4 linked regions of the Homo sapiens genome follow. The protein of the gene in region 2 purifies or fractionates together with the protein of the main gene of each other region. This does not show direct contact. Each region holds a gene or a part of one and is shown on either strand. Other genes may lie near its edges.

Evidence for each region.
Region 1: the proteins of SLC39A4 (region 2) and ABCB10 purify together in Homo sapiens (affinity purification with mass spectrometry; 5 studies listed by BioGRID and IntAct, with this or other methods). This does not show direct contact.
Region 3: the proteins of SLC39A4 (region 2) and LETMD1 purify together in Homo sapiens (affinity purification with mass spectrometry; 5 studies listed by BioGRID and IntAct, with this or other methods). This does not show direct contact.
Region 4: the proteins of SLC39A4 (region 2) and GOLM1 purify together in Homo sapiens (affinity purification with mass spectrometry; 5 studies listed by BioGRID and IntAct, with this or other methods). This does not show direct contact.

Annotation. Positions count from the first base shown.
Region 1 is NC_000001.11:229,555,481-229,563,453, forward strand, and holds the start of ABCB10 (ATP-binding cassette sub-family B member 10, mitochondrial), read right to left. Parts: upstream 3,228-7,973; 5' UTR 3,173-3,227; coding exon 2,656-3,172; intron 2,583-2,655; exon of another isoform or gene 1,260-2,582; intron 1-1,259.
Region 2 is NC_000008.11:144,413,717-144,421,863, forward strand, and holds the start of SLC39A4 (zinc transporter ZIP4 isoform 2 precursor), read right to left. Parts: upstream 3,129-8,147; 5' UTR 3,074-3,128; coding exon 2,882-3,073; exon of another isoform or gene 2,493-2,881; coding exon of another isoform or gene 2,376-2,492; coding exon 2,094-2,375; exon of another isoform or gene 1,704-2,093; coding exon 1,511-1,703; exon of another isoform or gene 1,395-1,510; coding exon 1,258-1,394; exon of another isoform or gene 1,181-1,257; coding exon 1,009-1,180; exon of another isoform or gene 906-1,008; intron 719-905; coding exon 546-718; intron 380-545; coding exon 242-379; exon of another isoform or gene 240-241; intron 166-239; coding exon 34-165; intron 1-33. UniProt on the Homo sapiens protein: Selective transporter that mediates the uptake of Zn(2+). Plays an essential role for dietary zinc uptake from small intestine. The Zn(2+) uniporter activity is regulated by zinc availability.
Region 3 is NC_000012.12:51,043,620-51,051,563, reverse strand, and holds the start of LETMD1 (LETM1 domain-containing protein 1), read right to left. Parts: upstream 3,238-7,944; 5' UTR 3,208-3,237; coding exon 3,086-3,207; exon of another isoform or gene 2,552-3,085; coding exon of another isoform or gene 2,531-2,551; coding exon 2,379-2,530; intron 1-2,378. UniProt on the Homo sapiens protein: Plays an essential role for mitochondrial structure and function, as well as thermogenesis of brown adipocytes.
Region 4 is NC_000009.12:86,075,554-86,082,824, forward strand, and holds part of GOLM1 (Golgi membrane protein 1), read right to left. Parts: intron 3,789-7,271; 5' UTR 3,768-3,788; coding exon 3,639-3,767; intron 2,039-3,638; coding exon 1,859-2,038; intron 1-1,858.

The sequences.
Region 1 (7,973 bases), on a different chromosome or scaffold from region 2:
AAGCTGCTTTCAGCACACGTCTGTACATATTTCATGGTAGACTGTGTTTTTAAAGTTTCTGATGCAATCAAAGTTTTCTGTTCACACAGTTTAGGAGGCATACCCAGCAAAATGCTGAGACAGATGGAGGTATTATTATTAAAATATAAAGCTGCATTTTTGAAAAAAGATTTTTGTATTTTTCTAAAAATTAACAAATTAACATTGGAATTCCTTTTCAGCTCAGCTTTTTTAGTGTTTTGATTAGAAAATACACACACGCAATTGCTCTTTACCTCCAGCATTTCAAAGAGATGTGCCAACACCTCAGGCTGCTCTTAGAATGATAAATTACACATTTTTTTTTAATTACAAATTAACAATGACCACCACTTCCTCTTAATCCTAACTGGCTTTAATATATAATAACTTCTCAGGAAATCATACATCTAAATAAGGGCTTTTTATCAGATATCCTTATCCTCATAACATACAATATGTATTTATCTGTTTGAAAAGCAAAAAAAAAAAAAAAAATAGTGTGCCAACCCTAGGCTTGTTTCTTCAAATTATATATTCATAATTTCTCAATGTGGTGGAACAAAATATATTCTGTTCTTAAAATAAAAAGAAGGCCGGGTGCAGTGGCTCACACCTGTAATCCCAGCACCTTTGGAAGGCCAAGGTGGGCAGATCACCCGAGGTCGGGAGTTCGAGACCACCCTGACCAACATGGAGAAACTCTGTCTCCAAAAATACAAAATTAGCCGGGTATGATGGCACATGCCTGTAATCCCAGCTACTTGGGAGGCTGAGGCAGGAAGATCGCTTGAACCCGGGAGGCGGAGGTTGCGGTGAGGTGAGATCACGCCATTGCACTCCAGCCTGGGCAACAAGAGCAAAACTCCATCTCAAAAAAAAAAAAAAAAGGTACGAGCTGGGTGTGGTGGCACATGCCTGTAGTCCCAACTACTCAGGAGGTAGAGGCAGAGCTGCTTGAGCTGAGGAGTTCAACACAAGTCTCAGCAACACAGTGAGACCCCTATCCCAGAAAAACAAAAGAAGAAAGAAAAAAGGAGGCAGTCTCGTCTTGTTTAAGGCTGTCACCAAAACATACTAGCATGGCAGGATATCTGGGGACAGAGTGAGGGGTCACAGGAACAATGGTCATGGCATAAGAGGACTGGGCACGTGTAGGCCACCAAAGCCTGACACCTAAACACCCTTCCTGACATCTAGTATTTCAGAAACAAAACAGAACTGGATTTCCTTACACTTACTTTGAGTCACATACAGAAGTGGTGGGCGCACCCGATGATGCTCAGGGTTTCTAAAGGCCTCACTCTGTGCCTGGTGGTATGGTCATTTATTCCTTCACTGAAGGCACTCTGAGCGCCTGCTCTGTGCCGTGCACATGCTAAGAACTAGAGACAGAAAGATGAATCGCACAGTCCCCGTCTCAAGCAGCTCAAAGTCCAGTGAGAGCTCCTAGTCTCCAATGTTTTTAAAAAGAGGAAAGAGAAAAAGATATTTTACAACAAAATCTACACTCAACCAACTGAACAATGAAATAATTCTCTTTACACCCGAGTGATATCAACAGCCCCCTAAGCTTTCATAGCAACTGGTAGATGAAAAGTCGCCACCCTAACTGCTCTCCTCCACTGTGCAAACCTACTCTAAATCCCAAATCACTACCCAGGAGGGTCCTTTCTAAAGCAATGGATTTGCAGCAAAGAATGCTTTTCTGGTGTTGCACCTGACAACCTCACAGGCCCCACAGGCCCCCTTCCACAGCCCACAGGTGCAGGTTTACCTCTATACATACGAATATTTCATAGATGCTTCTCCCCACTAACCTAGAAGCCCCAGCAGAAGTGAGGACCATGTTTCCTTGTGCATGCCACTGTAAACCCAGGGCCCAGTCCAGAATGAGGGCTCAACAGATGTTTATAGAAGGAGTGAAGATTTAGAGAAATCGAAAAAATTTTAGATCTTACAAGGCCCTTGCATCTAAACACTCCTCCAATTATGGCTAAAAAATGAGGAGCTATAGAAAACTGTCCTATTTAAATTTTGTTTCTAAAAACATTCATTTTGGCTTCTTTTAAAAAAGTTACTCAATTACTGAACAGATCACTGGTGTGGCCTGTTGAACACAGTGCTGTAACTTCCTGCACAAGAGACAAGTCTGAAAGTTTTGCTTTCCGCTGTGAAAGCATTGGTGACTGCTTGACAGACTCGCTTGAAGCAAATAATGTGTTTTTGGTTAAAAAAAAAAAGTATAAACGCCTAATAACAAAATAGGCATATTTTTGGCTAGAATTTTTTTTTCCAAGGAAAAACCTCCAGCTCATTTTGCTGCCTAAGCCAAAACAGATGCTCCCACTAAGTTGGTGGTGGAACAGACCCAAAGATTCCAATAATGACATATATAACGTGTGTCAACAAGAAAACAAGTGTAAAATCTGCAAACGAGTCCCCAGCTAAGGCGAAATCTTGACAACGCTACTCTGAGGTGAGCGATCCCCTCCCTCCTCCGGGGTTAGGAGTGGCCCAGGAGAGGCGGCGGTGACACGCGCTCTGCGGCCCGGCCGTGTCCCTCTCGGCGCCCCGGGACCCCGCGTGTGGAGAAGGAGAGGCCCGGCGGAGGGAAGTGGCCGGGGAGGACCCTACCTGCCAGCCTCCGGCGCTCAGGGTACGCCAGCCCCAGGAGCTTCCGGGCCTCCGGGAGTCCGGCCGCTGCGGGGCGCAGCCGCCCCTTGTCCCCGGGAGGCGCCGCCGGCCCGCGCCGCCAGGCCTCGTCCCCTGCCCAGGCAGCGGCTGCGGGACCGCCCGGGAACCGGGCGCGCGGGAGCCGAGGAGCGCCTGGCCCGGCAAAAGCCCCGCACCTGCAGCTGCCGGGGCCGCGAGCCCACAGCCCCAGGAGCCGCGCGAGGCCCAGGACGCCCCGCGAGGCGCCCGGACCCCCGCCCCGGCAGCCGCTCCTCCAGCGGCGCGCGGCTCCAACGCCCCAGAGCAGCGCGGGCCCCGCGCCCCATAGCCGCGCCGGCCTCAGGCCAGTGAACGGCGATAGGGACCCGGGAACGCGGCTGGCCGCGGCCCACACGCAGGCTACCGGCAGGAGCCGACCTGGCTCGGCAGGGCTCGGTGGCTCGAGCAGCCGCAGCGGCCAGGCAGGGGGGCCTCGCATGGCGCTGCGTGCGACCCGTACGCCTCAGCCCGCCGGCCAGGCGCGCGCAAAGCCCGAGGACCCTCCCGGCCCGGCCCCGAGCAAAGGGCGTGGACGCGGTGGCGCCCGCCCCTCCCCGCTGGCTGTCACCCGCCTTATCGTGCCTGCACCCTCGGGCTGCGCCCGCCCCCGCCCCATCCTCGTCCGCGCGGTGCCGCGCCTCTCCGCCCCACTCCGGGGACTGCAGCTACCCGGACCTTGCAAGCCACCCTTCCGAGCGCCCCCAACCCGCTCGGGTGCCCTCCCTGCAGCGCCCCCAACTGCCCGCTGGCGGAGGAGCGCCGGGCGCGCCAGCTGGGACGAGGCCCGGGAAGCCCAGGAGCACGGCTGCGCCTGCGTACTGGGCGCAGGGAACTTTTTCGCGCTTCGCCGTCCCCTCTGGTCTGAACTTGGGAACGACACGAGCTCTTTCTCACGCCGGCAGACCGGGCGGAGCGCGCAGACGCGACCACACGATGGCCGGCACAAAGATGGGGCGGGAGGACAGCGTGCTGGATACGGCGTGGGGCGGGTCCGCGGCCCGGGAGACCCATGCTGGGGCGGCCCTGTCACTCGTCTCGCTGCCAAGCACAGGGCTGAGGTGCGGAGGGACCACTGAGAGGACTTCGCTGCGTGTCAGCTCAGCTCTGGACGGCGTGGAGGAGGTGGTTGGCGAATAGTGAAATGTATATAACTTTGAGAAGGGAAGAGATCGTTTCTTTTTTTTCTTTTTTTTTTTTTTCTTGAGACGATCTCGGCTCACTGCAACCTCTGCCTCCCAGGTTCAAGTGATTCTCCCTTCTCAGCCTCCCAAGTAGCTGGGATTACAGGCATACGCCACCACACCCGGCTGATTTTGTATTTTTAGTAGAGACGGGGTTTTACCATGTTGGTCAGGCTCTTTTCGAACTCCTGACCTCAGGTGATCCGCCCGCGTCAGCCTCCCAAAGTGCTGGGATTGCAGGCGTGAGCCACCGTGCCCGGCCTGAGATCGTTTCTTAACTAGAGCAGAAATTTGAAGACAGGCGTGGTCGAGGCATTCCCGCTGTTCGAAGTGGAAAACACTAATCAGAAGGCAATGCATCTTAATACACGTGCATGGAAAGACAGGAGAGAACATTAAAACTCACTGGGACACTTTATGGAGACTTCATGGGGGCGGGGGGGGATATGTACCTGAGGTCCAGTGAGTCGTGGGTAGATTTTTGTAGACTCCTAGGTATTTTTACTGGACCTGGACAGGGTACTGTCAGTTGCAAATTTTATGGGTTCACAAAATAAAAAAACCTCAATAATCAACATAAACATTTTAGTGCAATATTTTTAAAAATCAAAATTAATTTAAAAAATCCGTAATGAACAAAATATAAAAAATTTTGATTGAGTATCCACTCCTGACCTTTCACAATCCTGCCTCTCTTCTCTCGCTCTAATCCCAGCCCTGGAAACTTTATTTACAAAAACTGACAGCAGCTGCCCTTAGTTTGGCAGCTGGAAAATGGGAAAGAGAAAGTAAGAGGAAGGTGAGATTTGGGTTAAAGTTGTCACTTTCTCTTCAACTGGGAGGGTATCAATCCTTGATGTTTCTTTAGTTGGGCTCAAAAAGGAGGTAGCGGCCGGGCGCGGTGGCTCACACCTGTAATCCCAACATTTTGGGAGGCTGAGGCGGGCGAATCACGAGGTCAGGAGTTCGAGACCAGCCTGACCGACGTGGTGAAACCCCGTCCCTACTAAAAATACAAAAATTAGCCAGGTGTGGTGGAGCGTGCCTGTAATCCCAGCTACGCAGGAGGCTGAGGCAGGAGAATTGCTTGAACCCGGGAGGCGGAGGTTGCAGTGAGCTGAGATGGTGCCACACCGCACTCCAGCCTGGGAGACAGAGCAAGACTCCGTCTCAAAAAAAAAAAAGAAAAGAAAAAAAAAGAGGAGGTAGCGGCCAGGCGGTGGCTCACACCTGTAATCCCAACATTCTAGGAGGCCGAGGCGGGCGGATCACTCCAGGTCTGGAGTTTGAGACCAGCCTGGCCAACATGGTGAAACTCCATCCCTACTGAAAATACAAAAATTAGCTGGGCTTGGTGGTGCATGCCTGTAGTCTCAGCTACTTGGGACGCTGAGGGAGCATAATCGGTTGAATCCAGGAGGTGGAGGTTGCAGTGAGCTGAGATCACGTCACTGCACTCCATGCACTCTAGCCTGGGCGACACACCAAGACTGCATCTTTTCAAAACAAAATAAAAACAAAAAAAACACAAAGAGGAGGTAGCAAGATGCACAATGAAAACGATCCCATTTCTTTTCAGAAGTCACCTCATAAAAACTGACTTAAAAATTTTCAATTAAAATAAATTTTGCATGATTTGATTACTGAGACTTTTTAGCACATCTTTAAATTTTGTCCCTAGTAGAGTGCCTTAAGTATATGGTCCTGGTAGGTAAGGAGTGAGGTGGGGGAAGGATCGATAATAGAAAGTGTGGGGTTAAGTCGGGCCTTAAATGTGCCTGTGAAATGAGCAGTAAGCATGTAATCCTCTAAAGTCCAACCTCTTAAACCCAGAGGACATGGAGTCTCGCCTCCCTACCCCCGCCCCCCCACTTTCCTGCCCCCAGGGTGACGACAATTCAAGCTAGTTTCTCATCAGTGCAGAAGTTCTAGAATTGGTGGTGTAGTGTGAAATCAGCTCCACTGATATTTATGACTAAGCATGTTCCTTTTAGCAAATATGTTATTCAGTGACTTCTGAAAAGAAGTAGGATCATGCCTCATCATGCATCCTGCTACCTCTTCTTTGAGCCCAGCTGAAGAAACATCAATGAACGACACTCTCCCAGTTGGAGAGAAAGTGACAATTTTAACCTAGACCTAAGCTTCATCTTTCTCTTACCCACTTTCCAGAAAACCCCTGCTGCTGCAAGGGCCAGGAAATGTCAGACTGGCCTTCCCTTCCTGCCTTCCCTGGCATGGCATCCCACTGCCTTTTTCTGCCATTGCTCTCTAAGGCCTCCAGTCAATAGAAAAATAACTCAAGTGTAGCTGATTAAAAAACAAAACTTGGCCAGGTGTGGTGGCTCACGCCTGTAATCCCAACACTTTGGGAAGCCAAGGTGGGAAGATCATTTGAGGCCAGGAGTTTGAGACCAACCTGTGCAACACTGGGAGACTCCATCTGTACAAAAACTAAAAATGTAAAAATTAGCTGGGTGTGGTGGTGTGTGCCTGTAGTCCCAGATACTTGGGAGGCTAAAGTGGAAGGATTCCCTGAGCCCGGCAGGTCAAAGCTTCAGTGAGCTGTGATTGGGCCACTGCACTCAAGCCTGGGCAACAGAGTGAGACCCTGTATCAAGAAAAAAAAGAAAGCCTGTAATCCCAGCACTTTGGGAGGCTGAGGTGGGTGGATCACCTGAGGTCAGGAGTTCAAGACCAGCCTGGCCAACATGGTGACACTTCATCTCTACTGAAAACACAAAAATTAGCTGTGTGTGGTGGTGGGTGCCTGGAATCCCAGCTACTGGGGAGGCTGAGGCAGGAGAATGGCTTGAACCCAGGAGGCGGAGGTTGCAGTGAGCAGAGATCACACCACTGCACTCCAGCCTGGGCAACAGAGCAAGACTCTGTCTCAAAAAAAAAAAAAGAAAGAAAAGAAAAAAAAAGTCTATAGCTCTTAAAAGTACAATGGGGAATGAATATTAGCAGAAGGATCACCTGGACCTATATTGCCATCACAACAACAACAACAAAAAAGATGACCTACTCTAAATATATATATATATATGTTTATATAACATATACATTTCATATATATATGAATTATTGCTTTGCATTTCTATGACCTTCTCTTCTCACTTGAAAATAAGAATAACTTCACTGCCTCTTTTTTTTTTTTTTTTTTGAGACAGAGTCTCACTTTGTTGCCCAGACTGGAGTGGGCTCACTGCAACCTCCACCTCCCAGGTTCAAGCAATTCTCCTGCCTCAGCCCCCTGAGTAGCTGGGATTACAGGCGCCCACCACCACGCCTGGCTAATTTTGTATTTTTAGTAGAAAAGGGGTTTCACCACATTGGCCAGGCTGGTCTCAAACTCCTGACCTCTGGTAATCCGCCTGCCTCGGCCTCCTAAAGTGCTGGGATTACAGGCATGAGTCACTATGCCCGGCTCTTCACTGCCTCTTTAGAAATTAGGATCAAGTTCCTGGGCCTCTGAAAAAAGCAAAAAAAGAAATAAATAAAGACAAAAAACAAAACAAAAAATGCTCTAAGGTGTGTTTGGAAAAGAATAAAACAAGCCAGTTAGATGTGATTGGATTAATAAAATACCACAGCAAAGCAAGAAAGGGCTGTGTATTAATGCCAAGAGAATAACAAAAGTTTAAGTCCTGCCCACAAGAAAGACACAGAAGGCTCTTGATGGAGGTGTGACTGAACCAAGAGGTAAAATCTGGCCCTCTGAATAGACTCTTAATAGGTTTCGTGGCTAACAGGTATTGAATTCAAAAGGGACTTCTTTTGATGCAAATTGAGAGCTGTTGGGATTACTTCAAGAGCAATTCCACCTGTGGGTGCTTGTCCCTCTCTAAGGGTGGCAAAGGAGGGAGCCCATGTGGACAGCAGGAACGGGTACACGATAGCACAAGAATCAAAACAAAGGCTCTCTGGTCGGAGTTTGTAAGCTGATTAGGGGTGTCATTTGACCCTTATTGGTACATTCTTGTTCTTTCGACTCAAGCCTGCAGCTCATCATGTCAAGGGTAGGGTGTCAGGACTGTGGCTGAAGATGAAGCAAGC
Region 2 (8,147 bases):
CCGCGTGGGATGGGGCATCTGGCGCCCACTCACCAGGTCTGCGCGGGAGCCCTCGTGGGGGGGCTTGGGCTGCCGGAGCTCGCTGGGTGCCAGCTGCAGGGACACACCGTGGCTGTGGCCCCCGTGGCTATGGCTGCTGTGGCCGCAGGGCCCGTCCTCCAGGTCCTGTGAGGGTAGGTGCTCAGTGTCCACCAGGCCCCCAGCACACCCACCCGCCGGGTACCTTCCCAAGAAGCCTGACCTCCGGGTCCCTGGGCAGCAGGAGATTGAAGAGGTTCTCAAACAGGAAGAAGGCGTAGAGCCCGGCCAGCATAGCCAGGAGGCGCCAGGTGGGCTGTGGGCTGAGGCCCTCTTCGCTGTGTGTATGCAGCCCCAGCACCTGGGGAGTAGGGGCGCTGGGCTGGGGGGGAGGTCCCAGGGCGCCTCCCACCAAGACCCAGGGAGAGGGGTCAGGAGGTGGGGTGGGTAAGGTCCCTGGGAGGGCACGGCCTGGGAGTCCATGGTGGGGAACGGAGGGCCAGGGTCGCGGGTTTGTGGGGGCAGACCTTGGGCGTCAGATGCAGGACAGCGTCCCCAGTGACTGCACCCACTGCCAGGCTCAGGAAGGTCTGCAGGATGTAGTGGGTGACCCCCCTGCAGCCAGTGCAGGTCAGCAGCAGGAGGCCAAAGACCGCGCAGAGGCAGATGAGCAGCGTGGCCAGGGAGCCGTACAGATACCCTGGGGGCGGGTGAGGCGGCTGTGAGAGCTTTTCTTCCAGACTCAGCCCCTGCTTCCCGGGCGCTGCTCACCAGAGCTGCAGGCCGTCAGTGTGGGCCAGGCCCTCACTCAGGCTGACCCTCCTGCCTCAAAGCCCCACTCTCCTGGCGACGCCACCTTCCCCTGTGTCTGTTGTTTCTACTTCCAGCCCCTGCTCACTCTCTCCATCCCTCATCCTGGGCAGCCACTCCTTCCTTCCTACACGGGCTCCACCTCTGTGCTGCCAGCACAATGTCGGCGTGGGCACTCACTCTCTGACTGGCTGAGCTGGTCCTGGACGGGGGGCCTGGACTGGGAGGTGCAGGCTCCACTCAGCTGCTGTTGGAGCAGGGCAGGGCTCAGTTGGGCCCAGGCCTCCGGGGTCACCCCAGCCTGTTCCGACAGTCCATATGCAGCCATCACGTCCCTGGCACTCAGGCATACCTGGGGGGTGGCAGGACAGGCTCAGGGGCCCAAGCAGACCCCGGTGAGGCCCCATCTTACCCCAGGGCGCAGCTCACCGTGTCCCACACACTGGAGCTGTTGCTGGAGCTGATGAGGGGCACAGGGTCCCGGCTGCTGGCTCCCCTGTGCCGATGACTGTGGTCACTGTGGGCCTCCCTGCCCACCCCCAGGCGCTGCATCAAGGCTGACAGCTCTGGCAGGGAGAAGAGTTGGCACCGCGAGTCTGTGTGGGCTCCGGCCCTGCCCCCCAGGGACGTGGAGGCTGGGGACTCGGGGGTGCCCCCCTCCACAGCCCAGCCCAGGCCTCACCGGCCAGCGTCATAGGGACCTCGCTGCTGTGCTGCTGGAACACAAAGTCCACGAAGTACTGAGGGCTCGGCAAGGCGTGGAAGCAAGACCCGCTCCTGACATGGTCCAGCAGGGCAGCCAGGACGCCGCCAGCACTGCCCGGAGCCCCCGCCCCCACCGCCTCCTCCAGCAGCTGAGGGATATCTACGCAGGCCTGGGGAAGAGGGGGCCTCCGCCTCAGCCTTTGGTGTGACCTTCTGCCATCCACCCCGCTGCCCCTGGATGCATCTCCCACCCCAACTACAGGATCTGCCCCCACCAGCCCCGCCCCTCCCTGGAGCCACAGCCCTCCCTGCCGGGCCCAGCTGCTTCAGGCTCCCACTCAGGCCTCTGGGTTCCTCCCTCATGAGGTCCCTCCCGGGGCTCCTACAGGCTCCCAACTGCCCAGTAGTGAGCCCCACGTTGTGAATCCCCAGCCGCAGGCCGACTCCTGGGCGTCTCCCCAGGCCCCCAGGCTCCCCGAAGGCTTTGCAGCCAGGCCGGGTCCCATGGGCCGTGGGACCCTCCTCACCCACTCCCCTGGTCTGCCTGGACTCTCCCTCACCATCTTGGGGGTCTGGCCGGCAGCCCGGGCCTGCATCCTCTGCAGCAGCCAGCTCAGGCCCGGGGTCAGGGCCTTGGGGCTCTCGAGCAGGGCCAGGAGGTGGTCTGCATGAGAGGCCCAGAGGCCAGCCCGAGCGTCCTCACAGGTGCCCTCGGGGTTGCTGAGGTACAGGACGGCGGCGGCACTGAGGCGGGCGACGTACCTGGCCTCCAGGACCGGGCCCGGGGGCAGCCCTGACCCCTCAGGCTCGCCCAGGCCCAGGGCGTCCTCCACAGACAGGCACTGTGGGCAGAGACAAGTGAGCAGGGGCGCTGGGCCCACCAGGGAGGGGAGAGGCAGGCCTGGCCAGGGGCTTCCCCGAGGGCCTGTTTCCCTTTCAAGTCCAACAACGTCCACCATCCTCTCTCAACCCCTGGCGCCCTTCCGTCTCCCCAGGCCCCTGTCCTGCTTCCCCAACTACAGGGGTGCACGCAGAGGGGTCCCCAACAGTGGTCCCCCATCCCCAGGGGACTCCCCTGGAGCCACTGCCAATTTGATGGCAGAGGGCCGGCAGGGGGAGTTGGCCCTGGGGTCCTGGGGAGAAGAGGGACTGTGTCCCTGGAAAGGCCTGTCTGCCCTCATGAGCAGGAGGGTGGGCTCTGGCCTGTGGGGAGGGTCAGGGTGCCCAGGTACTGCCACTAGCCTCCTCCGCCTCCTGGAGTTTGCCCAGGGCCCTTTGCTGCCGGCTGGCAGGGCGGAGCTGGCGGGAAGAGGCCAGGGCTGGGGGACCCGTCGGGTGGGGCTGTTACCTTTCCACACGGCCCGTTGGCGCAGTGCACACGGTCCGCCAGCGTATTTAACAGGCCGCCCAGAGCCTCTTGATCCAGAGCGCCCTGGCCAGAGGTGAGCAGGCTCAGCAGACCAGCAGGCGGGGACGCCGTCGCCGTCACCACCAGCACAGCCAGAAGCAGCCCCAGCTCCAGCGAGACCAGGGACGCCATACTCAGCTCCCAGCGTGCTCAGTGGGTGTTGCTGTGGCCAAGGCCCAGTGCTTCTGGGCTGGCTGAGGGCGGCTTTGCTGGGGTTGTCCAGGGCCAGACTGGGGCTGGGCTAGGACCCGCCCGGGCTGCATGAGGACCTCTCCCAGGTATTCCTGCAGAGCTCTGTGATTGGCTGCTGGAGATGCCTGGGTTAACCATTCCAGTGGCAGATCCTCCCCAACAGCCTGGAGCCACTGCCTGTGGGGGTCGAGGGCTGGGCCCCTTCCCCTGGACAGGCAGCCTCGGTGGTCTTTTTTTTTTCGAGTTGGAGTTTTGCTCTTGCTGCCCAGGCTGGAGTGCAATGGCGTGATCTTGGCTCACGGCAACCTCCGCCTCCCGGGTTCAAGTGCTTCTCCTGCCTCAGCCTCCCGAGTAGCTGGGATTACAGGCAGCGCCACCACGCCCGGTTACTTTTGTATTTTTAGTAGAGACAGTGTTTCTCCATGTTGGTCAGGCTGGTCTTGAACTCCCAACCTCAGGTGATTCGCCCGCCTTGGCCTCCCAAAGTGCTGGGATTACCGGCGTGGCTCACCACGCCAGGCCAGCCTGGGTGGGCTTCTGTCCTCTGCCTGCTGCCCCCCAAGCTGTGGGGCAGGGCTGGGGTGTCCCCTTCTGGCTGTCCATCTGGGGGCTGCCTCCAAGCTGGGGGACACAGGGCAGAGGTGCACAGATGCCCCCAGAGCCTGAGAGCTCCCAGGTCCCTGCCTCTGCCCCTCCCAACAGAGGCTGCCCAGACACCCTCGGTGGCCCCTGTTGGGGGTGGGGACATGGACCTCCCTCCTCCTGGGTCCTGGGCTGTGGTCCCTGTTGGGGACTGCGATGGAGTCAAAGAAACTGAAAAGGTGCCTGCTGCATCATGCTCCCTTAGGCCGGAGACAGCCCCAGGAAGCTCCAACACAGACAAACAGGAAGACGGAGCTGGGCCCTGGCAGCCACCTGGCCGAGCTTGGGTCAGGATAAGATTGGGGCAAGACCCCAGCTCTAGCCCCGGGGGCAGGGAGGCTGTGGCTCCCAGCCCTGCCCTCTCTGTGGGCTCCCTCTCTGGCCTTTGAGCCTAGAGGCCTTATCTCTACCGTGGTGGTGATGGCAGGAAGTCTGGGGGAAGGGGAAGGCAGATCTCAGGGCAGCTTTGCCTTCTGAAGGGGGAGTCCAGATGCCACCTCCCGCCCGGTCCAGCCAGCCTGACCCTGAGCATTGTGGGTGGGGCTGGGGTGGGGAGCTGGGTGCCTGAGGCCCAAGGACTCTGTCCCGCCATACACAGGGTGGGACGGGGCAGGGCGGGCATTGAGCCCAGTGTCCTGGGGTCAGGGTGCTTCCCCTGCCGGCCTCACCCCACCAAGCGGATCTCATGGTGCTCCTCTGGCTGGGCCCACCCGCAGTGGTATCCTTCTGGGGGCCCTTAGGGGAGCCTGCCGGGGGTGCAGATCCTGCCGGGGGTGCAGAGCCTGCTGGGGGTGCAGATGATTTCTGGGTCCCAGGACCATGAGGGGGCTGCTCTACACACAGCCTGAAGATGCTGCGGACCCAAACTGGCCCTTTCCCTCCCACACCACCCCAGGACCAATGGGCTGGCTGGAGGCCACCCATGCTAAAATAGGCTCAAGGGCCTACTTTAGCTTCTGGGCAAAGGTCTTGGCCTGGGCCTGACTCTGTGGCCTTCCTGAGCTGCCTCCCCAGTAGGCCTCAGTGCTGGGCTACAGGCCTCCTCCATTCCCTCCATTCATGTGACCCCACCCCTCCCAGCAGAAACTCTCTTCCGTAGCCCAGGAGCAGCTGTTGAGGGTTTCACCTGCCCATGCCCCAGCCTAAGGCCGGCTTCCCCAGAGCAGACGGGTTGCACTCTCCTGCCCCTCAGGCCCACTCTGTCATCCAACAAGCTCACTGCAACTGGCCCATCTTAAAAACAACACCGGCTGGTCACGCTGGCTCACACCTGTAATCCCAGCGCTGTGGGAGGCCGGGGCGGGGGGATCACTTAAAGTCAGGAGTTTAAGACCAGCCTGGGCAACATGGTGAAACCCGAGCTCCACTAAAAACACAAAAACAAATTAAGGCACCCTGAGTGGTGGTGGGTGCCTGTAGTCCCAGCGACTCGGGAGGCTGAGGCAGAATTGCTTGAGCCCAGGAGGTGGAGGCTGCAGTGAGCCACGATCGCATCACGCACTCCAGCCCGGGCAACCTGGCAAGACCCTGACTCTAAAAAGAAAAAAACAACAACAAAAAAAAGCCCACGTTCAATGGCAGCACTATTCAAAAGATGGAAGCAACTCAAGTATCCAAACGCGCATGAGTGAACACATCGTGGTTCATCCACAGTGGAACACGATTCAGCCAGAAAAAGGAAGGAAACCGGCCTGCACCGTGACTTGGATGCACCTGGAGGAGACTGTGATGAACGAAAGCAGCCAGACGCAAAAGGGCAAGGACGGTGTGATCTGACTGATGTGAGGACCCCAGCCAGTCAAATTCATGGAGACAGAAAGTAAAAGGGTTTTGGGAGGCCGAGGCGGGCAGATCACCTAAGGTCAGGACTTCGAGACCAGCCTAGCCAACATGGTGAAACCCCATCTCTACTAAAAAATACAAAAATTAGCCAGGCATGGTGGCGGGGTCCCAGCTGCTCAGAAGTCTGAGGCGGGAGAATTGCTTGAACCCCGGAGGCAGAGGTTACAGTGAGCTGAGATCACGCCATTGCACTCTAGCCTAGGCGACAGAGCTAGACTCTGTCTCAAAAATAGTAATAACAAAAAATTTTAAAATAAATAAAAAAAATACAGGCCGGGCACAGTGGCTCATACCTCTAATCCCAGTACTTTGGGAGGCCAAGGCGGGCGGATCACCTGAGGTTGGGAGTATAAGACCAGCCTGGCCAACATGGTGAAAACCTGTCTACTAAAAGGTACAAAACTTAGCTGGGCATAGTGGCAGGAGCCTGTAATCCCAGCTACTCAGGAGGCGAAGGCGGGAGAACTGCTTGAACCCGGAAGGCAGAGGTTGCAGTGAGCCGAGATCGCACCATAGCATTCCAGCCTGGGCAACAGAACGAGACTCTGTCTAAAAAAAAAAACAAAAAATTAAATAAGTTAAAAAAAATACATGCCTGGCACCCAGTGGCTCATGCCTGTAATCCTAGTACTTTGTAGGGCCAAGGCAGGCGGATCACCTGAGGTCGGGAGTTCCAGACCAGCCTGACCAACATGGAGAAACCCCATCTTTACTAAAAATACAAAATTAGCCAGCAGGGCGTGGTGGCTTATGCCTGTAATCCCAGCACTTTGGGAGGCTGAGGCGGGCGGATCACGAGGTCAGGAGATCGAGACCATCCTGGCTAACACGGTGAAACCCCGTCTCTACTAAAAATAAAAATAATTAGCCGGGTGTGGTGGCGGGCGCCTGTAGTCCCAGCTACTCGGGAGGCTGAGGCAGGAGAATGGCGTGAACCCGGGAGGCGAAGCTTGCAGTGAGCCGAGATTGCACCACTGCACTCCAGCCTGGCCAACATAGCAAGACTCCGTCTCAAAAAAAAAAAAAAAATACAAAATTAGCCGGGCGTGGTGGCACATGCCTGTAATCCCAGCTACTCAGGAGGCTGAGGCAGGCGACTCTTGAACCTGGGAGGCGGAGCTTGCAGTGAGCCGAGATTGCACCACTGCACTCCAGCCTGGGCGACAGAACGAGACTCCATCTCAAAAAAAAAAAAAAAAAATACAAAATTAGCCAGGCATGGTGGCACATGCCTGTAATCCCACCTATTCAGGAGGCTGAGGCAGGCGACTCTTGAACCTGGCAGGTGGAGGTTGCAGTGAGCCGAGATCACGCCATTGCACTCCAGCCTGGACAACAAGAGCGAAACTCCGACTCAAACAAACAACAAAATACAAAACTTAAGCCAGGCTGGCGGCATACCCCTGTAGTCCCAGCTATTCGGGAGGCTGAGGCAGGAGAATCACTTGAACCTGGGAGGTTGAGGCTGCAGTGAGCTGAGATCATGCCACTGCACTCCAGCCTGGGCGACAGAGCCAAACTCTCTCTCAAAAAAAAAAAAGAGAAAGAAAAGAAAGAAGGGTGACTGCCAGGGCTGGGAAGGGGAGAATGTGTGTGAGTGTTTAATGGGGATGGAGCTTTACTTTGTTTGGATGGAAAAGTTCTGGAGGTAGACGGTGGTGAGGTTGTACAATAATGTAAATACACTTAATGCCCCTGAACTGTGTACTTAAAATCAGTTAAAATGGCAAAATTTGCTATATTTTATCACAGTAAAAAAAATAAAATAGGCCGGGCACGGTGGTTCACGCCTGTAATCCCAGCATTTTGGGAGGCTGAGGCGGGCGAATCACCTGAGGTCAGGATTTGAGACTAGCGTGGCTAACATGGTGGAACCCCGTGTTTACTAAAGATACAAAAACTAGCCGGCTGGGCGCGGTGGCTCACGCCTGTAATCCCAGTACTTTGGGAGGCGGAGGCCGGCAGATCACGAGGTCAGGAGATCCAGACCATCCTGGCTAACATGGTGAAACCCTGTCTCTACTGAAAATACAAAAAATTAGCTGGGCGTGGTGGCGGGTGCCTGTAGTCCCAGCTACTTGGGAGGCTGAGGCAGGAGAATGGCATGAACCCGGGAGGCAGGGCTTGCAGTGAGCAGGGATGGTGCCACTGCACTCCAGCCTGGGTGGCAGAGAGAGACTCTGTCTCAAAAAAAAAAAAAAAAAAATTGGCTGGGCATGGTGTCTCCCGCCTGTAGTCCCAGCTACTCAGGAGGCTGAGGCAAGAGAATTGCTTGAACCCAGGAGGCGGAGATTGCAGTGAGCCGAGATCATGCCATTGCACTCTAGCCTGGGCGAAAGAGGGAGACTCCATCTCAAATAAAAAATTTAAAATTAAAATTAAAAAAAAAAAAAAAAAAAACAGGCCGTGTGCGGTGGTTCACACCTGTAATCCCAATACTTTGGGACGCCAAGGCGGCAGATCACCTGAGGTCAGGAGTTGGAGACCAGCCTGACCAACATGGAGAAACCCTGTTTTTACTAAAAATACA
Region 3 (7,944 bases), on a different chromosome or scaffold from region 2:
GGCTAATTTTTGCATTTTTAGTAGAGATGGGGTTTCACCATGTGGACAGGCTCGTCTTTAACTCCTGACCTCAAGCAATCCACCTGCCTCGGCCTCCCAAAGTGCTGGGATTACAGGCATGAGTCACTGCGCCCGGCCTGGAACACTTATTTTTGTTTTTGAGATGGAGTTTTGCTCTGTCGCCCAGGCTGGAGTGCAGTGGCGCAATCTCGGCTCACTGCAACGTCCACCTCCTGAGTTCAAGCAATTCTCCTGCCTCAGCCTTCCGAGTAGCTGGGATTATAGGTGCCCATCACCACACCTGGCTAATTTTTGTATTTTTAATAGAGACTGGGTTTCACCATGTTGGCCAGGCTGGTCTCAAACTCCTGACCTCATGATCCGCCCGCCTTGGCCTCCCAAAGTGCTAGGATTACAGGCGTGAGCCACCGTGCCCAGCCTGGAACACTTTTTAAAGTAGTTTAGTTCAATATATTTTTATGATTACATTTTAAATTTTCATTTTATGAAAATTCTTGCATCTAATTTTTTTCTTTTCTTTTTTTTTTTGAGATGGGAGTTTCACTGTTGTTGCCCAGGCTGGAGTGCAATGGTGCGATCTTGGCTCACCACAACCTCCGTCTCCCAGGTTCAAGAGATTCTCCTGCCTCAGCCTCCCTAGTAGCTGGGATTACAGGCATGTGCCACTATACCTGGCTGATTTTGTATTTTTAGTAGAGACGGTGCTTCTCTATGTTGGTCAGGCTGGTCTCAAACGCCCGACCTCAGATGATCCGCCCGCCCCGGCCTCCCAAAGTGCTGGGGTTACAGGCATGAGCCACCGCGCCCGGCTTCTTGCATCTATTTCTTTAATGCTTTCATATTTATCAATGATTTACATGTCATTATATGATGTCTCGATTGTCTTCAAAATAATACATAAGGCAAGTATATAAATAGGATTGGCAGCCATGAGTTATGATAATGAAGTGAGGTTAATACATGGAAGTTTGTTACACTACTCTCTCTACATCTGTGTGTGTTTAAAAATTTCCATAATAGTTGGCCGGGCGCGGTGGCTCAAGCCTGTAATCCCAGCACTTTGGGAAGCCGAGGCAGGCGGATCACGAGGTCAGGAGTTAGAGACCAGCCTGGCCAATATGGTGAAACCCCACCTCTACTAAAAATAAAAAAATTAGCCTGGTGTGGTGGCAGGCGCCTGTATTCCCAGCTACTTGGGAGGCTAAGGCAGGAGAATTGCTTGAATCCGGGAAGCAGAGGTTGCAGTGAACCGAGATCATGCCATTGCACTCCAGCCTGGGCGACACGGTGAGACTCAAAAAAAAAAAAAATTCATAATAAAAAGTTTAAAAACAAACACAAATGCTTTCATCCCTTTCTCTCATTTGATCCTATTTATCTACATGAAAACAGAAAAAGCAGCCAATTTTATCTCTACAAATTAAGGATAAGTAATTTTTCAAGTCCATGAAGCTAGTAATAATTATGATAATGTTCAGATTTGACAATGTAGTTTATTATAGTGTTATGATAAAAGCATAGAGCATATTATAGATTTGGTGCAAAAGCAATTGTGGTTTTTGCCACTGAAAGCCAAAAGCCGCAATTACTTTTGCACCAACTTATAATACTGTTAGGTAACATTTAGATGAAAATAAGTTAACATTTACTTGGCACTTACTAGGGATCAGGACCTGTTCTAGGTACTTTACATGTATCAATTTTTAAAGTCTTCACAATCATGTGATAAATAGGTAGGTTCCATTACTCCCATTTTACACATAAGAAAACCAAGGAAAGAGGGGTTAATTAATTAGTCCAATCGCACAGTGACGAACTGGGATTTGAATCAGGCAATCTGGCTCCAGAGTAGACACTTGACACGATACATATCTTCTCCTAGTAACTAAGGATCTCTGATTTGAAACAAAACATTTAGAAACCAAGTATTATGTAGGGCTATTGCCACTACAACATACTACCTAATATAGATTCATAACAAGGGTTAGACCTCATTTTCCTATGGGTAAGTCAACTGATACATCACAGGGCAGGTCTATACAGCCACAGATCCCTGCCGTGTGCAAGGCAAAAAATTTCTACTATAGCCAGGTGTGTGGTTAAGAAAGTACGAGAACATACCTATATTCTCCCTCCCTCATGTTGCTGTCATAAGTTGTTTCTCATAACATCTTTCTAGAAACATTCTCAAGAAGTGCTAATTTATAGGAATTAGTTTAAGGCGCAGGCATTTATGAAATATAAGATATCTCGGCTCACATCCCCATAGCAGAACCTGCAAATGATCTTATTTATGCTAACTCTTTGACCCTGCCCAAGAGCTGATTCCGGAATTTCTATTGTAGTTTCGTTTTTACCTTTCATGAAGATTGTGTACAGGACATAGAAGCGGGGGAAATGACGACCCAAGAAACGATGGTATTTCCCATTAATCGCTTTTGTCTTGGTTACCACATAAGACATCAAGTTCTTCACATCTGCCTTTGGAGAAAGGTGAAGCTTTGAAGACCTACAAGGAAGATCAAAGAGACTATCTGGGAATCAGTCCTAGAAGCTCCCTCACGCCTTGAGTCCCTAATGTAAAGCAGGAGTCTCGGAGATTGTATCCCAAGGCTTGACACTTCTGAAATCCAAGGAAGGTCTTGGGGTCAAGAAGAGATAGGCAATCAGACTGTGAAACACAAATCAGGCAAAGGCCAGGCAGGAAAGTAACTCAGGGTATGCCTCTGGAGAGAGCGCAATGCCTGTGGGACAATTTGAACTGCAGGCTAAGTCAGAAAGAGGTGGAATCGAGATAGCAGCGGTAAAACCTGAGCCGAAAAAGTGAGGCTGAAAGATGAGCTCAGGACACGCGGGGAAACCAGACAATATGGGGCACTGAGAGTACAGAGGGTCAGGAAGCCGGGTCACTAGTGGGGATCGGAGTTTGAATCCTGAACAGAAGAATAAAAATTCCAGGGCCAAGGCGTGGAACTCTGAGAATTAAGAGACAGAATGCAAGCAAGGTTGAGACACTGAAAGAGCCTGGACGTCAAAAATGCTTTTCTCGCTACAGGTCCCTCACCGAGGGGCCCCCCAAGCCAGGCCAGAGCGACCAAGTTGCAGCCTCCGGGTGACAAAATGTCCAGGGGTGACTGCCGAGCCCCACACAGCCGACCGAGCCCAGCACACCCTGGAGAGCGCCATCTTCACAGCGAGAGAAGCGGGAGAGAAGAGGTTGTCTTTGGGTCAAAGTTAACCGTACGTCGCGTTCGTTCGAAGACGCATGCGTCTTTTCTGAGCGCTGATTGGTAGCCATAGCCTGCTTGGCTCCAGCACAAGCCAGGAGAGGGAAGGACTCAAAGACTAAGTGCGGAAGGAGGGCCAGGATTGGACACAGCAGTACTTCCAGGTTTAAAGGCGCCGGAAACAGGGTGTCCCAGAGGGAGCGAGTTCTTATGCCACTGGTGTGGGTTTGCGACGCGGAGGGCACCCTGTCCTTGAGGCGCCCAGTGACCCTCCGCGATTCCTTAGGGCCTCAGGGCTTCCCAGCGCCGCCCTTGCCCTCTGCCTGGACTCGGGGCGTCGGAGCCTCGACTGTTAGGTAGCAGATGTCAGTTTGCCAGTGCCTGGGGCTAGGAGGACCCGCGGCGCCCTCTAATGGTGCCGGCGTGGATAGGCCGGGAACTGTCCACTTTCCAGTCAGTCTGGCGGCGAAGGTTGGAGGCCTGGGAGCGGCCCCTGTGCGGACTGAGTACACTTTTTCCTCTCTTTGTCGTTTCCAGAACTAAGTTTGTGGGAAAATGGTTTTCGTTAAGCACCTACCGAAGACCAAGCTCTGTCTCAACTTAAATGTTACTATTCTGAGAGGATTTCTGTGACCACCCTATCTGAAGCAGTGCCGGCGAAAAGGACACACTTCACACTTATTCTCATGTTACTCTGTTTTGTTTTGTTTTGTTGTTTTGTTTTTGTGACAGTTTTGCTCTGTCGCCCCGGCTGGAGTGCAGTGGCGCGATCTTGGCTCACTGCAGCCTCCGCCTCCCGGGTTCAAGCGATTCTCCTGCCTCAGCCTCCCGAGTATCTGGGATTACAGGCGTCCGCCACCACGCCCGGCTAATTTTTGTATTTTTAGTAGAGACGGGATCTCACTATGTTGGTCAGGCTGGTCTTCAACTCCTGGCCTCAAGTGATCCGCCAGCCTTGGCCTCCCAAAGTGCTGGGATTACAGGCGTGAGCCACTGCACCCGGCCTTGTATTTTCTTTGTAGCATCTGTCACTTACAGTGTTTATGTATTTGTGTCCTTGTTTGACAGCTCCCTGAACTAGAATGAGGGTAAGCATCTTCTCTGCCTTGTTCATTGCTGCACCTCCAACACTAGGTGCCTTACTTAGCACATAGTAGGTGTTCAGTAAACATGTTTGAATAGATTCATACTTGAAACTAAGAAGGATTCCCAGAAGTGGTACTTAACTGCCTCCAAGAATTAACAGTCCTCTTGGATATATATGAATATTTATTCTTCATGGAAGGTGGTAGAGCATCCCATGTGGGTTCCCTGGATATAGGTTCAATCTTGGCATTGACGTTTGTTTTAGTGAATGTTACCTTGGATATGTCACTTTAGCTCTGAGTTTATTTCCCTTATAATAGTACCTACTTTATAAGAAATCTTTGAGGATCCAAAGAGAATACAGCTGTGAAAGCTCCCACATCTGTATAATGCTTTATGGGTCACAGAGCTTTATATTAGCACAGGTTATTAATGACTGTACCACTCGTGCAGTCAGAGGAAAAGTTTTAAAAGATGGCCCTGGATCTTCACAAGTGTTGGGTAGATGGGGTGGACGGGATAGAAAGTTGACTAAGACGGCTGGGCGCCGTGGCTCATGCCTGTAATCCCAGCACTTTGGGAGGCCGAAGCGGGCTGATTACCCGAGGTCAGGAGTTCGAGACCAGCCTGGACAACATGGTGAAACCTCATCTCTACTAAGAATACAAAAATTAGCCGGATGTGGTGGTGGGCGCCTGTAATCCCAGCTACTCGGGAGGCTGAGGCAGGAGAATCGCTTTAACCCAGGAGGCGGAGGTTGAGGTGAGCCAAGATCGCACCACTGCACTCCAGCCTGGGCAACAGAGTGAGACTGTCTCAAAAAAAAAAAAAAAAAAAAAAAAGTTGACTAAGACATGGTCTTCATATTCAGGTAGTTTTTTTTTTTGTTTTTTTTTTTTTTGGAGACAGAGTCTCACTCTGTCACCCAGGCTGGAGTGCAGTGGCGCAATTTCAGCTCACTGCAACCTTCATCTCCCGGATTCAAGTGATTCTCCTGCCTCAGCCTCCCAAGTAGCTGGGTTTACAGGCGCCCGCCACCATGCCCAGACAACTTTTGTATTCTTTTTTTTTTTTTTTGACACGGAGTCTCGCTCTGTTGCCCAGGCTGGAGTGCAGTGGCGCAATCTCGGCTCACTGCAACTTCCGCCTCCCGGATTCACACCATTCTCCTGCATCAGCCTCCCGAGTAGCTGGGACTGCAGGTGCCCACCACCACACCTGGCTAATTTTTTGTATTTTCAGTAGAAACGGGGTTTCACCATGTTAGCCAGGATGGTCTTGATCTCCTGACCTCGTGATCCTCCCACCTCGGCCTCCCAAAGTGCTGGGATTAGAGGTGTGAGCCATCACACCCAGTCCAATTTTTGTATTCTTAGTAGAGACGCGGTTTCACCATGTTGGCCAGGCTAGTCTCGAACTCCTGAACTCAGGTGATCTGCCCACCTCAGCTTCGCAAAGTGCTGGGATTACAGGCGTGAGCCAACGTGCCCAGCCATCTTCAGGTAGCTTCTGAGTCATGTCAACTACTCAAGAATGTTCAGCTCTAAAATTCTGGAACTCTCTTGGAAAGGAGACAAAATCAGAATTTTGTGGAGAAAATAGGAAGGAACTGTGTCTGAAAGGATGGAGTAGAGGGGAAGGCATTTCATGCAATGAAAGAATGTGGCAGGAACACAGGTCATTCCTCAGACTTTTCTTTCTTTCTCTTCCTTCCTTTCCTTCCTTTTCTTTCTTTCCTTCCTCTCTTTCTTTCTCTTTCTCTCTTTCTTTCTTTCATAGGGTCTCGCTGTGTCGCCCAGGCTAGAGTGCAGTGGCCCCATCATGGCTCACTGCAGCCTTGATCTCCTGGGCTCAAGTGGTCCTCTCACCTCAGCCTCCCAAGTAGCTGGGATTACAGGCGCATGCCGCCACGCCCAGCTAATTTTTGTGTTTTTAGTAGAGATAGAGATTTGCCACGTTAGCCAGGCTGATCTTGAACTCCTAGACTCAAGCAATTCCCCTGCCTTGATCTCCCAAAGTGCTGGGATTACAGACTTGAGCCACTGCACCCAGCCCTTTCCTGAGATATTTATTTAGTGTTTAGGCCTCTTCCCCCTTTCCCCCGCTACACACACACACACACACACACACACACACACACACGCGCGTGCACACGCACACACACACACACACACACATGCATCTTGTTGGTTCTATCTTCTAGCTGTTCTTCAATCAGCCAGCTTCCTTCTATCTTCTCTGCCACCACCCTAGGCTAAGCTGCAAGCCTCTGGTCCCCACTTCTACAGCAGCCTCTTTACTGGTTTCCCTGCCATATGTTTTGTCCTCCCTCCAACCAGTTCTCCATGTTGTATGTAACCAGAGAGAGCTTTTAAAATTGCAAATCTAAGCTTGTCATTTCTCTTTATAAAACCTTTCAGGTTTCCGACTGGGCGCGGTGGCTCACGCCTGTAATCCCAGCACTTTGGGAGGCCGAGGCGGGCGAATCACGAGGTCAGGAGATCAAGACCATCCTGGCCAACATGGTGAAACCCCATCTCTTCTAAAAATACAAAAATTAGCCGGGCATGGTGGTGCGTGCCTATAATCCCAGCTGCAGCTACTCAGGAGGCTGAGGCAGGAGAATCACTTTAACTTGGGAGGCGGAGGTTGCAGTGAGCTGAGATCACACCATTGCACTCCAGCCTGGGCAACAGAGTGAGACTGTGTCTCAAAAAACAAACAAACAAAAGGCTGTGGGCTGGGCACAGTGACTCACACCTGTAATCCCAGCACTTTGGGAAGCTGAGGCAGGCAAATCACCTGAGGTCAGGAGTTCAAGACTAGCCTGACCAATATGATGAAACCCCGTCTCTACTAAAAATATAAAACTTAGGCTTGGCGCAGTGGTCCATGCCTGTAATCCCAGCACTTTGGGAGGCCAAGGCAGGTGGATCACCTGAGGTCGGGAGTTCAAGACCAGCCTGACCAACATGGAGAAACCCCGTCTCTACTAAAAATACAAAATTAGCCAGACTTGGTGGCGTATACCAGTAATCCCAACTACTCAGGAGGCCAAGGGAGAAGAATCGCTTGAACCCGGGAGGCGGAGGTTGTGGTGAGCTGAGATTGCGCCACTGCACTCCAGCCTGGGCAACAAGAACGGAACTCCATCTCAAAAAGAAAAAAAAAAACAAAAATTAGCTGGGCATGGTGACATACACCTGTAATCCCAGCTATTCAGGAGGCTGAGAGAGGAAAATTGCTTGAACCCGGGAGGCAGAGGTTGCGGTGAGCCGAGATCACGCCATTGCCTCCAGCCTGAGCAACAAGAGCGAAACTCTGTCTCAAAAAAAAAAAAAAAAAGAAAAACCAAGCTGTGCCACAACCACCTTGGGCACGTGTCATCAGGACCTCCTAAGGCTGTGTCATGTCCTTGACCTTGGCAAAATAAACTTTCTAAATTGATTGAGACCTGTCTCAGATATTTTGGGTTCACATAGGTGTGAGTCACTAAGCCAGACCTAGCTCCACTTTATACATGAGGAAAATGAGGTTCAATAATCTGCTCAAGATTGAGTCAGAATTTGAACCCAGGCAGGCTGGGCATATGAGTTAGTGCTGCACTGTA
Region 4 (7,271 bases), on a different chromosome or scaffold from region 2:
GCCTAAAATCACACAGCTGAGGGAACTTTAAACCCGGGTCTGCCTGACTCACAAGTTCCATGCCTCCTACCACCAAACCACAGCTAAAATCCTCCTGCAGCTAAGGTTTGATGTGAGAACCCACCCTTGCTCACCAAAATGAAAAGACATTTATATCGCATATTCTAAAAGAGAAAAACTGTGGAAACAGATTCTCTTTTCAAATAACTACTTGATGCTCTTTTTTTTCTTTTTCTTTTTGAGAGATGAGGTTAAAGGGGATTTCAGGAGCACAAAAAGCATATCTCACCAGTAAGAAAAGGGAAGAAACATAAAGAAGCACTTTATTACAACAACATTATGCACAATTCCCAGAGAAGAAATATGAGCTTGCAAATATAGGAAAGTACTCTGCAAATTAAACAACAAAAAAAGTACTTCTTGAATTTTAAATCAGTTATGCGAGAAAAGTCTGAGTCCCTTCCTGGAAATAATTCATTTTCTGAGACAATTCAAGATAATGGAAGTTGAGCTACAACATTCTTCCAATAAATTAGCCACTCCAGAGAGAGAGGTACACGCATTATAAAAGCCAAATTTTTCAGGCCAGGTGCGGTGGCTCATGCCTGTAATCTCAGCACTTTGGGAGGCCAAGACGGGTACATCACCTGAGGTCAGGAGTTCGAGACCAACCTGACCAACATGGCGAAATCCCATCACTACTAAAAAATACAAAAAATTAGCTGGGCGTGGTGGCACATGCCTGTAGTCCCAGCTACTTGGGAGGCTGAGGCAGGAGAATTGCTTGAACCCGGGAAGCAGAGGTTGCAGTGAGCCAAGAGGGCGCCATTGCACTCCAGCCTGGACAACAAGAGGGAAACCCCATCTCAAAAAAAAAAAAAAAAAAAAAAAAAAAAAAAAAGCCAAATTTTTCTAGTTAATAATAGAGGCCAAAGTTTGATGCACTCTGGGACAGGAGATATTAGTAACTCACACAGTTACACAATTTAATAAAGAAAGTATAGTCATATATTCCTACATAAGAAAACCAGGCCGGGCACGGTGGCTCATGCCTGTAATCCTAGCACTCTGGGAGGCTGAGGCAGGTGGATCACGAGGTCAAGAGATCGAAACCATCCTGGCCAAAATGGTGAAAACCCCATCTCTACTAAAAATATAAAAATTAGCTGGGCGTGGTGGCAGGCACCTGTAATCGCAGCTACTCAGGAGGCTGAGGCAGGAGAATCGCTTGAACCCGGGAGGCAGAGTGAGCCAAGATTGCACCATTGCACTCCAGCCTGGGCGACAGAGCCAAACTCCATCTCAAAAAAAAAAAAAAAGACACATAAAGCTTAGATATTTTAATTAGCAGGAAGGCCCCTTTAAATCTACGCAGGATTTGTTGGTTTTTTTCCTAGCTTAAAAGCAAGGGTGCAGTCCCCTACTTTCTCTGTTAGTATTTAGTAGAGTCTGCCTCTCCTCTCCTCCATTAGATACTTGGAGGGCACAAATATTATTTTTCTCTGAGATATAAGCACCTGGCATAGGCCTGGCACAGAGTAGGTATTTAATACATGTTTGTGGAAAGTGGGAAGAAAAAACCCAATAGGAGAAAAAAAAAAGCCAATAGGAGGATGAATCTGAAATTGTTCTTCTGCATTTCTCCTGTTTATTACCACTGCAAAAGGCTTCACCGCAAGCCCAGCCAGGGACTTGGAGGGGAAAGGGAGAGAATGCCCAAAGCTTGATCAATAGGCTCTTTCCACATAATTACATAAATCTAAACCCAGCCGCTTGCTCATCCTCCCGCCAAGAAGAAACAGACAATGTAGACACCATCCCTTAGAAAAGAACTGAGAGGAAACAAAGCAGGCCTTGCCTTTTCGTCCTGGTACAGCTTGTTGACGCTCTCCAGCTGGAAGTTGTGGCTGGACTGGATTTTGTCAAGCTGCTCCCGCTGCTTCTCCAGCTCTCCCTGGAACTCGTTCTTCTTCAGCTCCACGGCGCCTCTCTCTGCAGCCGCCCTGCGGACCCTGCCTTCCAGCTCCATGATCCGTGTCTACAAGGAGACCGTGGCATTAGGGCTGATGCCAAGTTACCTGAGGAGCCTGGACCACCTGAGCGCCCTCCACAAAGACCACCTTGGGGCCCAGGGCCAGCACCAGTCTTATACACACAAGTGCCCAAGGCTGTGTTTTAAGTCAACTGGACAGAAGCTGGAGCGGTTTCTTCTGGAAAAAATGGTCTCTGTCAGTGTAAGTGAAGGAAGGCTCTGTGCACTCACACCACACTTCCCACTGGGTTTTTGTGAGGCTTAAATGTGCTAAGTGCACAGAATGCCTCATGCTTTACCTGGCATAAGATGATGCTCAAATATTTAGTTCTTCTTCGCTGCTAACAAAGCACTTAACAACTCTTTAGCAGATACAATTTCTGAAAACAGATTCAGTTCTCCAACTCCAGACAAGCAGACCTCATCTGCCCAGAGAACAGGAACTCCCGTGGAAGCTGAGACACAGGGAGTACAAGCCCAGGAGGGTAAGTGTGAGAACAGGACAGAGCACAGACGTGCTGGGGTGCCACGGCTAAGCCCATGCAGGTTGGAATCCCTGCTCCACCTCAACCTCTTGGTGCCTCAGTCTGACCCCCTGTGAAATGAGGAAAGTCAAGTCCCAGCCTTGTAGGGTTTGTGCACAAAAGGAGATAATTTGTATAAAGTACTGTGAAAGAGAAATTATTCTGACATTCATTAAAATGGTAAGAAAGACTATTCAAAACGATTGCAATAGGAGAGGGAAATTGTGCTCAATGCCGAACACATCAAAGACAGCTAGGGATTTATAGCCAACGAGCACAGTGCGGGGAGTCAGTGGATGGAAATCGCCCCCAGAGTAGGGGGATTCTTGCTAAACTGGCCTAACAAGATTCTTGCTAAACACAGGCCAAGGACTTAGACAGCAAGGGTAGGGATGAGGAACTTGGTCAAGGATCAGGGGTAGAAGGATGGCTTAGCGGGATCCTTTGCTAGGACTGGGCTGGGCAGGCCAAAGACAGGCAGTGAGAGTTGGGAGGTGCCAAGATCAAGGCCTAGTCAAGAAGACGGCTCAGAAGGGCCCGACTCAAGTTCAATCAAGAGGAGCATCTTTGTCACTGCTCAGCACTGCACCTGACCCATGACTGCACCGGTAAATGAGGAAGTTAAAATTATTATTATCATTAAGTAATGAAGATAAAGATTGGTACCTTTAAAAACATATTTCTTACACCCATCATCCAAGCACACTTCCAATACTACTCTTCGATATCTTGGGCGCCGGAGGACCGCAAACAACGGACTATGGCCAGTGTATGTAAGCAAGCTGTCTTCCCAGAACCACCCCAGTAGCTCAAATGAATGCTGTTAACTCACAGGAAAGGCAGGGAGGGATACCACAACCGCAATCCTACACAACCACAGAGGGGACCTCTCCCACCCAAAGCTGCTTGGGGTCTGGCCCAGGGCTGTGGGGGTGTGCAGAGCCCTAAACTCACCTTACAAGCGTGTGCCCTGCACAAAACGCCCTGGCTGGCAATAAACAACAAACCCCTGGGACCCCATCATAACAAAATAAACAAAACATAAACATAAAATAAACATAACAATAAAGAAAACAAAACACCTGGAGGTCCACGCTCCGGGAGCTCGCAATCCAGTAGTTGAAGCCCAAGACGATGATGCAGGCCACCAGGGCGGCCAGCACGAGGGGCGGCGACTTCATGCTGCGACGCCCGTTTCCCAAGCCCATCATCTCAAAATCAGCGCTGAGAATCTGCCAAGTAAAAGCAAATAAATAAACATCAATACTAGTTTTATCATCTCCGAAGCAGACCGTATCATCCTTACAACCAAGAGGAAAGGAGTCTTGCCAAGAAGCGTGGGCTGGTAGCTTCTCCTTGACGTGCAAAGCTGTCAAGGGAGAAGAGTATGTGAACGGCACGCACAGAGCCCATGGTGCTGTGAACCCAGGGCAGTGTGGCCAGTTCCCAGGACAGGCTCGGAGGAGCAGGCACCGCCCCGAAACCTGCCACAGATTAGCTCGAGACCTGGGGCAAGACATGATTCCTCTTACACTTCAGATTCCTCCCTTGTAAAATCATTACCATACTCACCTTCCCGGCATAGTTTGAGAATTAATCATTTCTGTAAGCAGCAATGTTTGAGAAGTAATCATTTCTGTAAACACCAATAACAAATATTAAGTGCTTCCGCATCATATTAGAAAGAGTATATTCCTCATTACTCCTCAGAGAGAGCTTTTTGCTTTGATTCCTAACAAGGGAGGTTTTTTTTACCCTTGACAGGATTACTAATGACACCCAATTAAAGCATTTCTCAAGCAAAGCAGGAAACCCATTCTGGAGGTGAATGTGAACTCCCCCCCATGTACATCATTATTCAGGCACAGCCCTGGCTATAGAAGTGTCTCCTCCTTCATGACACACAACGGAAGTGGGAGGTGTGCCATCTGCCTGAAGTCACCAGGAAAAATGTGTTCCATCTTAGGATTTGAGGTGGAAACAAGGCATTCACTCCATGCCAAACGAGAGCACCTTCTTTCGAACATTCATTTCTCACTTTAGGGACCGTATCTGTGCAACTGCTGCATTGTACACCTCATGTTAGGAAAAACAGTGCCTCTGTGTGAGAGCTACAGAGTGCACAAAAATACAGCTTAGAAGAAAGATGCCATAAATTTTGTTAATGGGCTTCAATTCAAAGCCAGGTCTGCCTGGATGCAAGCACTGGTCTCTAGGAACAAGGAAAGTAGACTTTTCCAAATGGCTTTTCCCAAGCCAGATAAAACAGAACCTTATCAGAGTGAGCGTGGCTGCACTGCAACAAACAGCCTTTGAGCACAGAGAGCCTTTTACACCAGGGGTGTCTAGCAACAGAGGAGGAAAGGGGATGGTGGGCAAAAAAGACAAGGGACGGGTAAGGAAGAGGATACCACCAAGGATTCACCTGCAAAACCCAATTCTCACCAGTGAGAACATGGGAGAACTGATCCTCACCCTATGGTCTTTTCAGGTGGGTCACCAAAAGGCTTCTTTTTTCTTAACAGCTAGCTACTAGTATGGGGGCCTGCCAGGGGATAAAGAAGCAATCTAGCCGAATCATCTAAAATAAAGCACCCCCAGAATTCCCACGGGTGGAAATTCTGACCTGTGCTCATGTCTTACCAGCTTCTGGCCTCTCAGGATGAAAGGGGAAACCACGTTTTTCTTTCAATTATCAGCTGATATCAGCAAGCACTGAATATACTCAAGAGACTCTTGATCACAAGAGTCTCTTTTTTGACTCTTAAACTTTTTAAAATTTTTGTTTATTTATTTTAGAGACAGGGTCTCTGTCGCCCAGGGTGGAGTCAGTCACGCAATTGTGGCTCACTGAAGCCTCAAACTCTTGGGCTCAAATAATCCTCCTGCCCTCAACCTCTCAAGTAGCTGGGACTACAGACATGGGCCACCATGCCCAGCTAATTTTTTAAAACAATTTTTGTACAGACAGGGTCTCACTATTGCCTAGGTTGGCCTCAAATTCCTGACCTCAAGTGATCCTCCCATCTGGGCCCCTCAAAGTACTGGGATTACAGGTATGAGCCAGTGCACCCAGCCTCAATGATTTTTTTTTTTTTTTTTTTGAGACGGAGTTTCGCTCTTGTTTTCCAGGCTGGAGTGCAATGGTGTGATCTCAGCTCACTACAACCTCTGCCTCCCGGGTTAAAGCGATTCTCCTGCCTCAGCTTCCCGAGTAGCTGGGATTACAGGCATGCACCACCACGGCCAGCTAATTTTGTATTTTTAGTAGAGACGGGGTTTCTCCATGTTGGTCAGGCTGGTCTGGAACTCCCAACCTCAGGTGATCCGTCTGCCTCGTTCTCCCAAAGTGCTGGGAATATAGGCATGAGCCACCGTGCCCAGCTAACCTTGTTTTTAAAATATAAAAGTACAAATACAAGAGGGGGTGGCAGGGACTTTTCCAAATGGCTTTTGCTAAGGAAAAAATAGGAAACTACACACAGTAGAGTATAAATTGGTCGGGTGCAGTGGCTCATGCCTGTAATCCCAGCACTTTGGGAGGCCAAGGCAGGTAGATGGCCTGAAGTCAGGAATTTGAGACCAGCCTGGCCAACGTGGTGAAACTCCATCTCTACTAAAAATACAAAAGCAGCCAGGCATGGTGGCACATGCCTGTAGTCCCAGCTACTCAAGAGGCTGAGACAGGAGAAAAGCTTGAACCCATGAGGCGGAGCTTGCAGTGAGCCAAGATGACACCACTGCACTCCAGCCTGGGCGACAGAGCGAGACTCTGATTAAAAAAAAAAAAGAAAAAAGGATAAATTACATCCCCCTCATCCTACTCCAAAGGAAAGGGATAACATTTTCTAACATCTGGGTCCTTCTGTTCCAGTGGTCCTCAACACTCAAGGGGCATCAGCATCACCTGGGACACTTTTTTTTTTTTTTTTTTTTTGAGATGGAGTCTCTCTCTGTTGCCCAGGCTGGAGTGCAGTGGCGTGATCTAGGTTCACTGCAAGCTCCGCCTCCCAGGTTCATGCCATTCTCCTGCCTCAGCCTCCCGAGTAGCTGGGACTACAGGCACCTGCCACCACACCTGGCTAATTTTTTGTAGTTTTAGTAGAGACGAAGTTCCCCCATTAGCCAGGATGGTCTTGATCTCCTGACCTTGTGATCCGCCCGCCTCGGCCTCCCAAAGTGCTGGGATTACAGGCATGAGCCACCGTGCCCAGCCTGACACTTTTTAAAATATCAATACCTGGGCTCCACCACTGCATTTCTTTTCTTTCCTTTTTTTTTTTTCTTGAGACAGGGTCTCACTCTGTTGCTCAGGCTGACACACTCACTCTGTCACCCAGGCTGAAATAGCTGCCTAGTGGTGTGATCCCAGCCTCAACTCCTGGGCTCAAGTGATCCTCCCACCTCAGCTTCCCCAACTTCCTGGGCTCAAGTGATCCTCCCACTTCAGCTTCCCAAGTAGCTGGGACTACAGGTGTGTGCCACCACGCCCAGCTAATTTTTTCTATTTTTGTAGAGATGGGGTCTCACTATGTTGCTCAAGCTGGTCTCAAACTCCTGGGCTCAGTGATCCTCCCGCCTCAGCCTCCTAAAGTGCTGGGAGTACAGGCGTGAGCCATCACACCTGGCCCCCAGCCCTGCATTTCTAATTCAATGGGGTTTAGGGCAAGGCCCGGATATTTGTATTTTTTAACCTCCCCAGGTGATTCATATGT